Homo sapiens: one gene and its partners. Each later gene encodes a partner of the first gene's protein in a complex. Each region holds a gene or a part of one and is shown on either strand. Other genes may lie near its edges.

Region 1 (4,102 bases):
GTTTTTTCCTCACATGGAACAGCTTCTCCTTTCCCCTTTTTGGGCTGGCATTCCCTCCAAGTCTTAGCTTGGTATCACTTCTGGGAAGGCCCCTTGGCCCCATCTAGGAGCAGTACCTACTCTGAGTTCTCTCATCCCTTTTTTTTTTTTTTTAATAGACACGGGGTCTCTGTGTTGCACAGGCTTTCTTGAACTGCTGGCCTCAAGTAATCTGCCTCGGCCTCCCAAAGTGCTAGGATTACAGGGATGAGCCACCACACCCAGCCTCATCCCCTTCTCTTCTTGCCCTATCATACTGAGCTGTCACTGTCAACTTATGTCTCTCCTACTAGTGAGCTCCAGGAGGACCAGAATGGTCTTTCACCCTTTTATCCTCAGACCCAGCAGGATTAGCTCACAGCAGCAACAAATGTTTGCTAAACCAATGAGCAAACACATGCTAACAGTGAAAAATACTTATGACACTGTTTCAAGGAAGACTAGAATGTAAAGTTGCCTATATGCTATAACTTTATTTTAGATGTATATGGATTGAGGAAAGAACTCAAATACCTTTTTTTTTTTTTTTTTTTTTGAGATGGAGTTTTGCTCTTGTTGCCCAGGCTGGAGTGCAATGGTGCGATCTCAGCTCACAGCAACCTCCGCCTCCCGGGTTCAAACCATTCTCCTGCCTCAGCCTCCAGAGTAGCTGGGATTACAGGCATGCGCCACCATGCCTGGCTAATTTTGTATTTTTAGTAGAGACAGGGTTTCTCCATGTTGGTCAGGCTGGTTTCAAACTCTGGACCTCAGGTGGTCCGCCCGCCTCGGCCTCCCAAAGTGCTGGGATTACAGGCATGAGCCACTGCGCCTGGCCCTCCATATCTTTTATAATTCTGTTTCACTGACTCTATAATATTCTTTTTTTTGGAAACGGTGTCTCACTCTGTTGCCCAGGTTGGAGTGCAGTGGCGTGTGGCGTGATCTGGGCTCACTGCAAGCTCCGCCTCCTGGGTTCACGCCATTCTCCTGCCTCAGCCTCCCTAGTAGCTGGGACTACAGGCGCCGGTCACCACACCCGGCTAATTTTTTTGTATTTTTTTTAGTAGAGATGGGGTTTCACCGTGTTAGCCAGGATGGTCTCGATCTCCTGACCTCGTGATTCGCCTGTCTCGCCTCCCAAAGAGCTGAGATTACAGGCGTGAGCCACCACGCCCAGACTTAATATTCTAATATTCAAAATACAACATAGCTCAGGGAGCTATGGTGTTTATGGCATAATTCTGCAAGGGGTTCCCTAGGTCTCAGCTGAAATAGATAAAAATCAATTAGGCCGGGTGCGGTGGCTCACGCCTGTAATCCCAGCACTTTGGGAGGCCGAGGTGGGCGGATCACGAGGTCTAGGAGTTCAAGACCAGCCTGGCCAATATGGTGACACCCCATCTCTACTAAAAATACAAAAATTATCCGGACATGGTGGCTCGTGCCTGTAGTCCCAGCTACTTGGGAGGCTGAGGCAGAAGAATCATTTGAACCCAGGAGGCGGAGGTTGCCACTGCACTCCAGCCTGGGTGGCAGAGTGAGACTCCGTCTCAAAAAAAAAAAAAAAAAAAATCAGTCAATTATTAGCCAGGCATGGTGGTGCATGCCTGTAATCCCAGCTACTCGGGAGGCTGAGGCAGGAGAATCACTTGAACCTGGGAGGAAGGGGTTGCAGTGAGCCAAGATAATGCCACTGCACTGCAGCCTGGGTGACAGAGTGAGACTGTCTCAAACAAACAACAACAAAAAAAATCAGTCAATTCTCCTGACTCTAGGATCAAGACAGCTGTACTCACGGTACCTTATAAATGGCTGGTGCTCAACATATAGTAGTTGAATAAACAAACTTTCTTTTAATCAGTAGTTCCCAAACCTGGATGCTCATCAGAACCCCCTATGGAATTTGTAAAAATGAAGCTCCCTGAAAAGCCCACTCCATTCACATCTCTCGAATCAGAATCTCCAAGTGTTTTCTTTTACCTTGGCCAGTTAAATGTGTGAGGCTGCTTAGTGGATTGATGTTCAGAAACCGGCTTTATACAAATGTAGGTGTTCACTCAGTTTCACATGATCAACAACGTAGAGTAAAAGCACTCTGCTAGATACCGTGGGGAATAAAGATCAATCAGGGTTGGACCCTGCTAAAGGGATAAGATCAAGTGGGCAGGAGTGGATTCCTAAAACCTCCTACACCTCCTCTCCTCTACTGGCTTTTCTTCTTAATGAGCTGAGAAGACTGAAGTGGTCTGAAGATAAATGCCGCTCCACCCCGAGCATTGCTACAATAGCCTCTGTCTTCCCACCTATCGCCAGCTCCTCTTAGAGCCAAGCCTTGATTTATGCCCCGGAGCCCACTTCCTTTCACCTTCTCAAGGACATCATTTCAAGAATTCTCCCATCTTTCTCCTATATTATCATTTTTAAATTTATCCGTTGCATCATTTCCATTGGCATGCTAACATACCTTTATTTTCTCTCAGCCTTTTAAACCCTCTAGGCTCCCACCAGACATATTTGGAACAACTTGAGCACTCACAATAATCATTGCCCTAACTAATAATAAGACAACCAATACATTAAAACCTATAATTAAAGCCTATAGCGATGCTCAGAAAAGAGGAAGAATTTAATTAATTTACTTGAGATGGAGTTTCGCTCTTGTTGCTCAGGATGAAGTGCAATGGCACAACCTTGGCTCATTGCAACCTCCACCTCCTGGGTTCAAGTGATTTTAGTGCCTCAGCCTCCCAAGTAGCTAGCATTACAGGCATGCACCACCACGCCCTAATTTTGTATTTTTGGCAGAGATGGGTTTCACCATGTTGATCAGCCTGGTCTCGAACTCCCGACCTTAGGTGATCCACCCACTTCTGCCTCCCAAAGTGCTGGGATTACAGGTGTGAGCCACCGCACCCGGGACTCTTCCTTTTTTTTTTTTTAGATAAGAGTCTCACTCTGTTGCCCAGGCTGGAGTGCAACGGCGTGATCTCGGCTCACCCAACTTCCGCCTCCCAGGTTCAAGAGATTCTCCTGCCTCAGCATGCCAAATAGTTGGGATTACAGGCAGGTGCCACCACGCTCAGCTAATTTTTTTTTTTTTTTTGAGATGGAGTTTCGCTCGTTGCCCAGGCTGGAGTGTAATGGCGCAATCTTGGCTCACCGCAACCGCTGCCTCCCGGGTTCAGGTGATTTTCCTGCATGCGCCACCACGCTCAGCAAATTTTGTGTTTTTAGTAGAAACGGGGTTGCTCCATGTTGGTCAGGCTGGTCTCCAGCTCCCGACCTCAGGTGATCCGCCTGCCTCGGCCTCCCAGAGTGCTGGGATTACAGGTGTGAGCCACTATGCCTGGCTTTCTGATTTAATATTTAAAAAGCTATTAAACAGTTTGGGGACAACTGGGAAAATGTAAACCCTCACTGGATATCACATATTAGGAAATAGTTAATTCTAACAGATAGGATAACTGGGTGTCTTTTTTTTTTTTGAGATGGAGTCTTGCTCTCTTGCCAGGCTGCAGTGCAGTGGTACGATCTCGGCTCACTGAAACCTACACCTCCCAGGTTCAAGCGATTCTCCTGCCTCAGCCTCCCGAGTAGCTGGGACTACAGGCACGCAGCACCACGCCCAGTTAATTTTTCTGTTTTCAGTAGAGATGGGGTTTCACCATGTTGGCCAAGATGGTCTTGATCTCTTGAGCTTGTGATCCGCCCGCCTTGGCCTCCCAAAGTACTGGGATTACAGGCATGAGCCACCATGCCCAGCCAACCGGGTGTGGTTTTTATTTTATTTATTTTTTATTTTTTAGGACAGAGTATCGCTCTGTCGTAACACTCACTGGATAATACATAATATTAGGAAATCATTAATTTTCACAGACATAACTGGGTGTGGTTTTTATTTTTTGAGACAGAGTATCACTCTGTTGTGACACTCACTGAATAATACATAATATTAGGAAATCGCTAATTTTCATAGATAGGATAACGGCGTGGTTTTTTTTTTTTTATTTTTTGAGACAGAGTCTCGCTCTGTCGCCCAGGCTGGAGTGCAGTGGCACAATCTCGGCTCACTGCAACCTCT
Region 2 (4,102 bases), on another chromosome or scaffold:
TTTTTTTTTTGAGAGACGGTGTCTCGCTCTATTGCCCAGGCTGGAGTGCAGTGGCCTGATCTTGGCTCACTGTGACCTCTGCCTCCCGAGTTCAAGCAATTCTTCTGCCTCAGCCTCCTGAGTAGCTGGGATTACAGGCGCCCACCATCACGCCTGGCTAATTTTTGTATTTTTACTAGAGACAGAGTTTCGCTGTGTTGGCCAGGCTGGTCTCTAACACTGGCCTCATGTGATTCACCCACCTTGGCTTCCCAAAGTGCTGGGATTACAGGTGTGAGCAACCACGCCCAGCCAATTGCATCAGTTACACACTGGTGGAATGTTCTCTCTCAGTCAGCAATAGTCAAGTGGGGGCGAGTGGGGAAGGGATAAATAGGGCCTATCTGAGCAGGTGGAGCTGAACATAGTTTACAAAAGCATATTTAACATTATACTGTATTGTATATTTTTAATCAAAAAATATGATTGCTTTTGTAATACAGGGTCATTTTTTATCTAAGGATAATTGGTACCAGAAAAAATCTACAGAAAGAAAACCTGCTGAAGGTGGACCAAAATTTAGAAGGTTTTGAGTGGGATGCTGTCTAAAAATAAAATAAAATAAAATGCAAGAAAAACCGTAAATTAAACAAAATTGAGGTCAAAAATTAAAACCAAAATCGAGGTTGTAATTGCAGGTGTGTGCTAATCCTTGATTATATAGTTACAGTTATATGCCATTTCTTGTTATTGAATTGGGAGAGGTTTAACTTTTCCAATGAAATTGTCAGACAACATGAAACAGTATCTTTCCCTTCACATTTGACTTTTGTACCAATCATAAAGAGGGTTTTTCCAAACATATTTGAGGTATTCAGATCATTCTCTCTCTTTTTTAAAAATACATTTTTGGCCCAGTGCGGCGGCTCACGCCTGGAATCCCAGCGCTTTGGGAGGCCGAGGTGGGCAGATCATGAGGTCAGGAGTTCGAGACCAGCTTGACCAACATGGTGAAACCCCTCTCTACTAAAAATACAAAAATTAGCCGGGTGTGGTGGCACACACCTGTAATCCCAGCTACTCGGGAGGCTGAGGCAGGAGAATCGCTTGAGCCCGGGAGGCAGAGGTTGCAGTGAGCCGAGATTGCTGCACTCCAGCCTGGGTGACAGAGTGAGACTCCACCTTAAAAACAAAAAAAAAATATTTTTATTTTTAAAAAATTAAAAAATTTTGGAAATGAGGTCCTTCTCTGTTGCCCAGTCTGGAGTACAGTCATAGCTTACTGCAGCCTCAGGAACTCCTGGGCTCAAGCGATCCTCTCACCTCAGCTTCCCAAGTAGTTGGGACTACAGCACACTCCACCGTGCCTGGCTAAATCATTCTCTTTTGAAACCCCTGCTAAGTTGTCATTCCCATGGGTTTTCTCTTTGTCTCTTGTTCACTGGTCTGCCTCTGCCAGATCTGTATTTGTGGCTTTGCTTCTGATTTGAGCAATTTGCCAGCATCATCTTCCCTGCAAGCAGCTGTGTATGTAACAGTCAGCTGTCAGGAAGACACCGACTGGCAAAAACACAGGCACAGGGAGGCCAGTGTAAGCAGGGAGGGCTGTATGAGTGGTGGGCAGTGATCCAGGGCTTGGCTATTTCACGAATACTTTATGTTATGATGGCTTTTGCTTTCCTGAGCCACCAAGCCTACTCAGATTATAAACACTGAGTACAGAGGAGCCCTTGTATAAAGTATGGTAAGTTATGCCAGACACACTCAGCTTAGCATGGGTTTAAAGCTGGGAATGGCCATCCACAATGTAGCATTACAGGCCAGAGCAGAGAAAGCTGTCAATTTATACTTTGGGGCTATGTGCAGTAGCTCACACCTATAATCCCAGCACTTCGGGGGCCGAGGCAGGAGGACTGCTTGAGCCCAGGAGTTTAAGACCATCCTGGGCAACAAAGCAAAACCTCATCTATTAAAAAAAAAAAAAATTAGCTGGGGGCATGCTGATGTGTGCCTGTAGTCTCAACTACTTGGGAGGCCAAGGCAGGAGGGCAGTGGGCTCGGGAGGTCAAGGCTGCAGTGAGCCGTGATCATGTGACTGCACCTGGCCTAGGAGACAGAACGAGACCCTGCCTCTTTTCTTTTGTTTTTTTTTTTTTTTGAGACAGAGTCTCACTCTGTCACCCAGGCTGGAGTGCAGTGGCGCAATCTCGGCTCACTGCAAGCTCCACCTCCCGGGTTCACGCCATTCTCCTGCCTCAGCCTCTCCGAGTAGCTGGGACTACAGGCACCCGCCACCACGCCTGGCTCATTTTTTATATTTTTAGTAGAGATGGGGTTTCTCCGTGTTAGCCAGGACGGTCTCGATCACCTGACCCTCATGATCCGCCGGTCTCAGCCTCCCAAAGTGCTGGGATTACAGGCGTGAGGCACCGTGCCCAGCCGACCCTGTCTCAAAAAAAAAACAAAAAAAACAAAAAAAACCAACTTTGGCAGTTGAAGCAGTAGTTGTGCTTGCTTGGGTCATCATGCTTGTCACACCATACAGTGAGTATCTGTTTGCTTGTCTTTTTCCCAAATGAATGTGAGGTGGTTGAGGAGAAGTACTGCCCCTCATTCATCTCTGGATCCCAGGGTCCTGCAGAACCCCCTTGCAAACTGTTTCAAAATGTAATGGATTCTTTAAAGTGGCAGGTGTGAAATGGCGGAGCAGGTGCTCATTAAGACCTTCAGCATAAAGGTGCTATTAGAAAACCACCCTGTCAGTTCATGTACTCTGTGTTTTGATTTTTGAGTATTTCCAGAGATTAGCACAATTGGTTTGAGCTGGCTACATAAGAGTTCTGAAGTATGAGTTTGATTCTTAGAGAGACGCAGTTAGCTTTTTTATAGTCTATCAACAACTGTCAACATTTCTTTTTTTTTTTGAGACGGAGTCTTACTCTCATTGCCCAGGCTGGAGTGCAGTGGCGTGATCTTGGCTCACTGCAACCTCTGCCTCCTAGATTCAAGTGATTTTCCTGCCTCAGACTCCCGAGTAGCTGGGATTACAGGCACTCGCCATCATGTCCAGCTAATTTTTGTATTTTTAGTAGAGACAGGGTTTTAACATGTTGGCCAGGCTGGTCTCGAACTCCTGACCTCAAGTGACCCACCCGCCTCGGCCTCTCAAAGTGTTGGGATTACAGATGTGAGCCACCACGCCCGGTCAACTGTCACATTTCTAACTCCAGGAAGCTGTTCACCAACTTTCCGTTATCACCCACAAGTTAGCGCAGGTGAAGACTGTAGATCCGCCGTGTCAGTCAGGGCTCTGCTAATCCATCATGTTTGTGTCATTCATGATTGGTCTGTAGTATGGAAAGAACAACAAACCTTGAAGAAATATTTTGAAAGATTGGCTTTTTGTGTGTGTGTGTGTGTTTTTTTTTTTTTTTCTTGAGAGAAGGTCTTACTCTGTCACCCAGGCTGGAGTATAGTGGTACTATCACGGCTCACTGCAACCTCCACTTCCCAGGCTCAGGTGATCTTCGCTCCTCCGCCTCCTGGGTAGCTGGAACCACAGGCATGCGCCACCACCATGCCTGGCTAATTTTTTGTATTTTTAGTAGAGACGGGGTTTCTCCATGTTGCCCAGGCTGGTCTTGAACTCCTGGGCTCAAGTGATCCCCCCACCTCGGCCTCCTAAAGTGCTATGATTACAGGTGTGAACCACTGTGCCTGGCCACGATTTTTTATTTCCTACAAAGTATATTAACTCAGCAGCTGAAGGGCCAGAAATGGTTGTTCAAGATACTGGAGATGAGTAAGTCATGGTTCTCCGGGGATGGTACCAATTAATACACAGGCCATAGCAGTACAGCCTTAGAGGCAACTGGACTGAAGAGGGGCCTTGTGTGACCAGCTGGGAAGTTTGGATGCCTCCCTGAAGTCCAGCCATTGTGGAGCTGTGCACAGAGGAGTGCCATGTTCACAGCCCCTTGGGCTGACGGGGGCAGAGTGACAGCAACAGAGCCTCCCCGTGGCGACCTCCAGGGTCCGGTCAAGGGGTATCAGGACCTGAGCAAGAACAGTTGCTGGGGAACCAGGAGGCGGAAGTGGCAGGAGGTGGGATGGGCTCTGAAGG
Region 3 (4,527 bases), on another chromosome or scaffold:
GTTTTTTTTTTTGCCAAGGGTTTGAAGTAAAGAGAAATAGCTGGTGTCACTTCTTTCTTTATTCATAACCAAATAAATAACCATCTTTTATTTTTCTCTAAGTGTCTGTTAGAGAATGCACATTTCAGTTGAAATCTGGATAAAACCTAGGGAGAACTTAAATAGGCTGTTTTTAAGTTATTGCAGCCTGTACAAAAATATATTCTATACCTGACTTTAGCCACCTTACGTTCAGAGGTCCCAAGTGACTGATTATTTTGTTGTGACCTATCTATTTGTATATTTGATTTGTGCCTGTTTTTCTTTTATTTCTGTTTAGGTACCCTGTTTGCTATAATGAATTATTCCCTCCCACCATTATGCCTTCCGCTTGAGTCTCTTTCAGAACCAGTCATTTAACTTTAGATAGAAAGATTTTTCAGAATTGTGCTAAACTGGATGAAAATCCCTGGGGTTCTTTTTCAGTTCTGTCTAAATCATGCACTCAGGACGATAGTTGTGAAGGCTGTGTGATCATCTCAGAATCTTTCATTGGTTTCAGCATGGGCTATATATTTTTTAAGTTCATTTGTGTCTTTTGAAGAAATTCTACACACCTGAGACTATGCTACAGATCTTTACTGGAAGTCTCCAGGTAACACTTCTTAATATATTTTCCGCATAAGTAAAATACTTTTGTTCTGTAAACAATGGCAAATGTCATCAGAAGAAATTAGGTTCCAGAAAGAACTTCTAAAACAAGCAAATCATTGTATTACTCTTAAATTTTATTAACATCTTCAGTTTGTGCGTCATTTAAAATGAGACATGTGCTTTAAAAAGCATTCTTATACATAAATAGACCAAGGAACAGTTAGGTAATTGATCCCTAAAACATGCACATCAATTTTATTCAGGTGTGTATAAGAAAGGGAAATAAGCTTTAAACCTTTTTCTTTGGATTAAAAACATTTGGAAATTATTCAGGAATGCCAAATGTTTTTCTGGAACAGATGTATTTTCCAATAGGAAATACTGATGCAATTAAGAGGCATTAGTGTTGATAAAGAAGACTGGAAAAACGTTTGTGCTATGCTAGATAAACAAGAAAAGAGTTCAAGTGGGCCTAAGATCTATGTCAAATAAATGAATCAGGTAGCATGAATTGAAAGGTTTGGATAGAAGAACAGGTACCATGAGCCAGATTATGGGACACATATATGTTCAAGGCACATGACTAGGCTAAACAGGTGGCTAGATTCTACAGACTAATTTGTTCATTCATTGAGAAAGTGTAAAATGTAATATAATTTCAATTTAATGGCACTTATTGATAAATAAATGCAATTGGATCTAGGGTAGAAAATGTCTTCCTTTCAGATACACACCAGAAATGCATACTAGATAACAGATGCCAGTAGCGATATGATTACAGTCCAATTTTCTTACACTGCAGTTAAATGGTTGTTAAACTGTTTTGTATTAATTCTATATGTCATACTGTCTATTCTCTTTCAAGTTTCACAAAAGAATTCATCAAAACTAGGCAGATTTAAGAATTTATTTAACCACAAAGAATGCTCAAAACTATTATTCAACAGGAATCAAGCCCAAACCCTGGAGTTGACTGCTGACCGTATTCGGTTTGGGCTTTTCCCAGAATGGAAACACTTTTCCCACACTACCTCCCTTTGCACAGCTAAAATGCTAGCATATCCACTGTGGTTCCCTTCTTTTTCTTTGGCAAGTCAGAGGAATTTACCTCCCCACCCCCTCTACTACATATTCTATTAGCGACACGATTGCCCTAAATATTCACAGAAGAAAAAGGAACACATTTAAAAAACTGCAACTTTCAACAATATTTAAACCTTCATCTTCTCAAATCAACTGCAATGGGAAAACAGAAGATATCAAGCTATCCACTGTATTGTGAATGATCAGCACACTGAACTTTATTCCTGAAAGTCAATATTAGGAGGACAAGGATAATTCTGTGTGCTTCTAATGGGCTAGCAAAATGTTCCCCATCTAACTGAAATAAGAATGTTTCATACTTTACTTGTCTGAGCTCTTAGAAGGAAGCAGCACCAACATCATTACAATTCCCCAAATAACAACTATTATCCATTTATATTGTTTTGAAGCACCTAAAACTTCTCAATAACAAAAGACATTAAGATGAGATGTTAGCAATACTGTCTCTTGAATACTTTTGTGTGCACATACAAAGTTTCTCCATAGTTTTAGTAGATAGCTCATAAGACTAGCGGCGACAGCTTTGAGCAATTAAAAACAAAAATGTTTCTCTAAATAGATGACACTAGTTAACAAACCAAAGAAATAAACAAAAGCCTTTTTAAGGCTACTGCTGCAATGAATGGTTCAATCTGAAGTTCACAGGAATAAACTGGTAGATAAGACAAAGATAAACCTGGAGGCATGGAACAAGATTTTAAAAAGTGAGAAGAGGGTTGAAGAGACTGGCAGATACCATCTGTCAGTATGTGAAAGGCTTGAGTCACATGGATTGCTTTTAACTCCTTGTTCTCTCATATCCTTGGTTAATGGTAACTTCTTCTTTCCTATTTCTTCACACAGCTTGGCCATGTAAATCCACCACAGAGAGGTGAAACAATGATATAGATGAACACCTGGAGGGACGAGGAGAGCAATTTTATTTTCTTGAATCAATCATATTATTCTAAATAATATATATAGGAAAGTAGAGCCTTATTAAGAAATACTTCTGATTCCATTAGAGTAGCAGTTATGTAGTAATGGAACACACTAAACAAGTATTTTCCAAGACAGAAGTGTAGTTAACATTGTCGTTTTTGGTATAACTCACACCCACTTGAACTCTAGCGTTTCCTTCAGTGGGAGAGAAAGCAGTGGGGTTGTTGCTCTTCACTGGTAACTCGGCAGAATCAAGGCTAAATGAGCAACTCATACTGATGTGTCATTAACAAGTCATAAAAAAATCACAAATAACCATAATTCTCCTGAAGTATGGTTTCATTAATTATATTTTTAGGTTTTGCACATGAATTTTATTTTTGATTAATATAAGAATATATTTTAAAAGCCTGAGTAGAAGGCTTTCATCTATATCACTTATGAGCAAGAACACTGCTACGAACTGTTCAGTGGATAATGACACAATAATTACGATGACCAAAACAATGAAAAGCAGATGATGTAAGTAACACTGCAAAAATACTGGTGCTATTACAGATGTGTTTGCTTTTTAATTCTAGATTATAATTTTAAATTATATTATAAAAGTCACTACTTGTTCACATTATTATATCACAAAAAATAGATTTTAAACATTAGGTTCACTGCATTAGTCACTTTATTTTATTTATTTTTTATTTTTTATTTTTGTAGAGATAGGGTGTCACTATGTTGACCAGGCTGGCTTCAAACTCTTGGCCTCAAGCAATCCTCCTGCCTCAGCTTCCCAAAGTGCTGGGATTACAGGCATAAGCCCCTATGCCTGGCTTTATTTTGCTTTAAATTACAACTTTTTGAGATCTTTAAGTGACTGATTTCATTATTTGCAAGCTTGGAAAAGGATGCATTGATGAATTGCATGCCCTTTGCTCCAAAAGTGAGCAAAGCATTTTGCCTTGTAGGGAACTATAAATATTGCCAGGGTTGGGGGGCAGATTACAGCAAATTCTGTTTATTAATGAATAGGTTGAACTTCTGACATCATATTCACACATACACACACATACTCACACATACACATGCCACAAATGTAAAGTTTACCAACTTGATGTAAAGTTGACTATTTGTCACAGCTGTAATATAAGGATTTTTCAAGCTGAAGTACATCTCGTTAGGTGACAACACCTTTTCGCAAAGATTGATATTGCATTTAGAGCTGTGCTCTGCATGTAATAAGTAATCAGTAAATATATTCTGAATTTAACAATTCAGCTGCACAAATCAACCTAAACTCCCAGACCAAATAATAAGTAAGAAGCTAAGCTCAGGAGCCTAAAATGTGATATTAGAAAGAGAAACCTGAGCAAGGAACCATTCAAGGCCATGACAATTACTTCCAGTATAAAATCTACAGATCTATGACTGCTCTTCTCTTTTAGATAAATCCAGCTGTCTAAGGCAGAGGACCCTCAAGCTGTGGTAGAGGAGAAGCAGGGTCAGAGTTATCTGCTTGGAGGTAACTTTGGGCTTCTGGACATGACTGGAGGATGGGGAGGAAAGGCAACTTTATCTGACCATGAACAGGGTAAAGCACCCCCCACCTGTTAGCAATAGTTTTTAAAGTTGTGGTTTAGGACCTCTTTACACACTCAAAAATTACTGAGGACTCCAAAGAGTTCTTGTTTAAGGGGGATTATAATTATCAGCATTTGCCATATTAGAAATTAAAACTTTAAAAATACATAATTAATTTAAAAATAAAAACAATAAACCCATTACATATAAACCAGAAATGTCTTTATTTAAAATAACTACATTTCTGTGAGGTCAGTTTTATAGATCTCTTCCTATTGAGAATATATAATAATT
Region 4 (4,102 bases), on another chromosome or scaffold:
GGGAGGCTGAGGCAGCAGAATTGCTTGTGCCCGGGAGGCAGAGGCTGCAGTGAGCTGAGATCTTGCCACTCCACTCCAGCCCGGGCGACAGAGCGAGACTGTCTCAAAAAAAAAAAAAAAAAGAAAGAAAGAAAATGCTCCTTGCTACTTCTGTTCTGGGAGCCAATCTTTTGGCTCCTTGATGGTCCTACTGCCAGTGGTCACTTGCTCTGTACTAGGCCTCTGTGAGCTGGGTCCCTTTTGATTTTGGGTGTGTGTGTGTGTGTGTGTGTGTGCACGCGCGCGCGTGCTTTGAACAGCTAAGAACTTGGAGCTGCCTCCGTTTCTGTCAGTGGTTGTTAATTCTGGCCTGACAAGGCTACTTTTTTCTTCCTGCTGTCTGTATTTAGGATTACAGGTGGAGTAAAACTTCGGTGGGGATTTAGAAAATTAGGGCAGTTGAGAAATTAGGGCAGGTGGGGAAGCTTGCTCAAGCCCCAGATACTAATTTCCCTGAGACCAAATCACCCCCAGTGTGGCAGGCTCAAGGTTTTTTGTTTGACCTTAGGTGAAGTTCTTTCTGGGGCTCACCAAGAGGGTAACCACATACGTTTTTTCCAGAATGTGGTAGTGTCTCAGACTTCTACATGCTTTCTTTAGAAGCTGAAAAAGAAGAATGTAGTCATCTAGGCAATACCACTCTGAACCTGCCTGATCTCAGAAGCCAAGTGAGTCAGGCCAGGTTAGTACTTGGATGGGAGACCACCTGGAAATACCAGGTGCTGGAGGCTTAAAACGAAGAACAGAATAGCTTATTCATGGTCCGTCAATCCTCAGTACCAGTCTAGTGGGAATCTTCAGTGAATTAACCTTTTTCTAGGGCTGCAGAGTTTAGTTGGTTTGCCCATAGCACTATCGAAGTTACAGGCTATATGCATTATCAGGTAGCTCCCACATCTGGGCTGCCACCTTTCAGAAGTTGATAGTCCAGGAGGCACATGGACCAGTTCAGATTCATTACAAACACAGGGAAAGTGCTCCAGTATTTTTAATCCATCTTTCCTTGCCTCGCGTAAGTGTAAAAGGCAGTGGAGTGGGGGTATTGTGATCCTATTGATTGGATTTCAGGTCCTGCTTTAGTCTGTGACCTTGAAAAGAATCATTAGCTTCTTTGGTTCTGTCTTAAAAGGAATGAAAATTATTGCTCACTATATCCCTTCTAACATGGGGAAGGTGATGAGGAATATGCTGGCAATGAATTTATAATGGAAAAAGTCTAACATTTCTCTTCCATACTTCTTTCAGAATCGGCTACAGTCTCAAAGGGCAATGCTTCTGCAGGGCACTGAAAGCCTGAACCGGGCCACCCAAAGTATTGAACGTTCTCATCGGATTGCCACAGAGACTGACCAGATTGGCTCAGAAATCATAGAAGAGCTGGGGGAACAACGAGACCAGTTAGAACGTACCAAGAGTAGAGTAAGTCTGGGCAGACAGGGAAAGGGGCAAGTATGGGGTAATTAGGGGGCCACTGCACCTGGAAACCGTACTAAGGCCAAAAGCTACAGCAGTTCTGTATTCAGGGAATAGTCTTTTTTAAGTTCTTATGCTTTTCTCAATTTTTATTTATTAATTTTTTTTTTTTTTTTGAGATAGAGTCTCACTGTGTCACCCAGGCTGGAGTGCAGTGGCGTGATCTCCACTTGCTGCAACCTCCGCATCCTGGGTTCAAGCGATTCTCTTGCCTCAGCCTCCTGAGTAGCTGGGATTACAGGCATGCGCCACCATGCCTAGCTAATGTTTGTATTTTTAGTAGAGATGGGGTTTCGCCATGTTGGCCAGGCTGGTCTCGAACTCCTAACTTCAGGTGATCCACCTGCTCCGGCCTCCCAAAGTGCTAGGATTATAGGCGTGAGCCACTGTGCCCGGCCGCTTTGCTCAATTTTTAGTTTGCTTGGCTGAGAGATGTCCCTTAGAAGCAATTTTACCCCTAAGATTTAGACATCACTGGAAATTTTTGCTTCAGTGAGGGGAAAAAAAGATGGAAGGACCTGATTTCTACACTTACAAGATTACAGAAATTAATAAGGATAAAGTGGCTGCATTCTCTCTTTGGCAAGAGAAATAATATGTCAAAAGGCACTTAAGGATTCAAAGCTTCCAATCTGAGATTTTAATTTCTCACACATCTAATAGGGTATTCTGCTATTCTTACGAAAACATCATCTGCTTATATCCTGTTATTTAGAGCCAAGGCTGTTTTCCAGATTTCATAAAATAGTACCACAGTTTATAGATTTATAAATTATGCTTCAATCCTGGACTATAACCCTTTACTGTTATGTAAGTAAAAGTAAAAAAAAAAAAGTAATAGGGAAAAAAATGTCTAAGGATTATCCAGTAAGGTAAGCTGGATCATTGTGGAAAGAAAACAAATATTTAAATCAAATGATGACTATATCAGGGATCTCTAGTCTGCTGTCACTCTGAGAGCCTCAGAAAAATAACTCATTTATTTTTTCCTTTCCATAAATGAGTTAACCTACATAGGAATTTTTTAGTTTTTTAGAGACAGGGTCTTGCTCTGTCACCCAGGCTGGAGTGCAGCAGTGCAATTTTAACTTACTGTAGCTTCAAACTCCTGGGCTCAAGTGATCCTCATGTGTAGCTGCGATACAGGCATGTGCTACTGTGCCTGGCTAATTGTTTTAATTTTTTGTAAAAACGGGGTCTCATTATGTTGCCAAAGTTGCTCTCGAACTCCTGGGCTCAAGCAATCATTCCACCTTGGCCTCCCAAAGCGCTAGGATTACAGGCATGAGCCACTGTGCCCAGCTGGAATTTTTTTTTTTTTTTTTTTTTTTTTGAGATGGAGTCTTGCTCTGTCGCCCAGGCTGGAGTGCAGTGGCGCAATCTCGGCTCGCTGCAAGCTCCGCCTCCCAGGTTCATGCCATTCTCCTGCCTCGGCCTCCCGAGTAGCTGGGACTACAGGCGTCTGCCACCACACCCGGCTAATTTTTCGTATTTTTAGTAGAGACGGGGTTTCACCATTTTAGCAAGGATGGTCTCGATCTCTTAACCTCATGATCTGCCCGCCTCAGCCTCCCAAAGTGCTAGAATTATAAGCGTGAGCCACTGCGCCCGGGCAAAATTTTTTAATTGGTACAATTTACCAATGGAATGCTGTATTCTTAATAGCAGAAGGCAAATCAATTTGAAAAACATACTGTGGCCAAGATTTGGACAGGAAAATACTAGCTCAGTGTGAAGATTTGAGTAGATTTTCTTAATAGCTTCAGTTCTCCATTAAGTCAGAGTAATGCCCTGCCCTCTTCAGTGAAAATTCACAATAAAGTACTACATTCAAGGCAAGCTATGGAGAATGTAACTTGCTTACAGATTGTGTGGGTTTTGGTTTTTGAACATACCAGGTAGATTGGTTGAATTTAAAAGCCAAGGAGGCCGGGCTTACACCTGTAATTTTAGCACTTTGGGAGGCTGAGGTGGGAGGATGGCTTGAGCCTAGGAGTTTGAAACCAGCCTGGGCAACATAGCGAGACCTCATCTCTAGAGCGAGACCTCATCTCTATAGCGAGACCTCATCTCTACTAAAAATCAAAAAAAGGAGCAGGGTGTGGTGGCGTGCACCTGTGATCCCAGCTACTTGGGGACATGTGGGGTTATTGCTTGAGCCTGGGAGGTCGAGGCTGCAGTGAGCTGCGATTGCAGCACTGCACTCCAGCCTGAGTGACGGAGTGAGACCCTGTTTCAAATAAATAAAAGCCAAGGAACGAGCTGAGAGGTCAGCTTACCAAGGCCACTGGGGAATGGGAACAGATGGCAAGTAGCCATCTGCTGGAGGTGAAATATCCTCCAGCTGTCCAGATTAGTAGCAAGCAGTTGAAAGTTCCATGGAGGTTAATTCTTTTCACAGTTCAATGTAACTGTCTCTTAAGAGGGTAAAGAAAAAAACCAGATCCCAAAAGCAGTAACAGACCAGCCTACAAAAACAAATGCCAACTCAAGAGGCTGTCCTGGAATTTGGCTGATGAAATTCAAATCTTAAGTTGCTCTACAGTCACTGGCTGGCCAGTCTGCTGGCTACACTTGAAGCCTTCCCTTT

The links.
Region 2: STX5 (region 1) and BNIP1 share a complex: the UniProt entries of both Homo sapiens proteins name them as parts of the SNARE complex.
Region 3: STX5 (region 1) and VAMP7 share a complex: the UniProt entries of both Homo sapiens proteins name them as parts of the SNARE complex.
Region 4: STX5 (region 1) and VTI1B share a complex: the UniProt entries of both Homo sapiens proteins name them as parts of the SNARE complex.

The regions. Positions count from the first base shown.
Region 1 is NC_000011.10:62,811,521-62,815,622, forward strand, and holds part of STX5 (syntaxin-5), read right to left. Parts: intron 1-4,102. UniProt on the Homo sapiens protein: Mediates endoplasmic reticulum to Golgi transport.
Region 2 is NC_000005.10:173,154,529-173,158,630, forward strand, and holds part of BNIP1 (vesicle transport protein SEC20), read left to right. Parts: intron 1-4,102. UniProt on the Homo sapiens protein: As part of a SNARE complex may be involved in endoplasmic reticulum membranes fusion and be required for the maintenance of endoplasmic reticulum organization. Also plays a role in apoptosis.
Region 3 is NC_000023.11:155,939,989-155,944,515, reverse strand, and holds the end of VAMP7 (vesicle-associated membrane protein 7), read right to left. Parts: intron 2,634-4,527; coding exon 2,565-2,633; coding exon of another isoform or gene 2,377-2,564; 3' UTR 747-2,376; downstream 1-746. UniProt on the Homo sapiens protein: Involved in the targeting and/or fusion of transport vesicles to their target membrane during transport of proteins from the early endosome to the lysosome. Required for heterotypic fusion of late endosomes with lysosomes and homotypic lysosomal fusion.
Region 4 is NC_000014.9:67,653,772-67,657,873, reverse strand, and holds part of VTI1B (vesicle transport through interaction with t-SNAREs homolog 1B), read left to right. Parts: intron 1-1,284; coding exon 1,285-1,458; intron 1,459-4,102. UniProt on the Homo sapiens protein: V-SNARE that mediates vesicle transport pathways through interactions with t-SNAREs on the target membrane. These interactions are proposed to mediate aspects of the specificity of vesicle trafficking and to promote fusion of the lipid bilayers.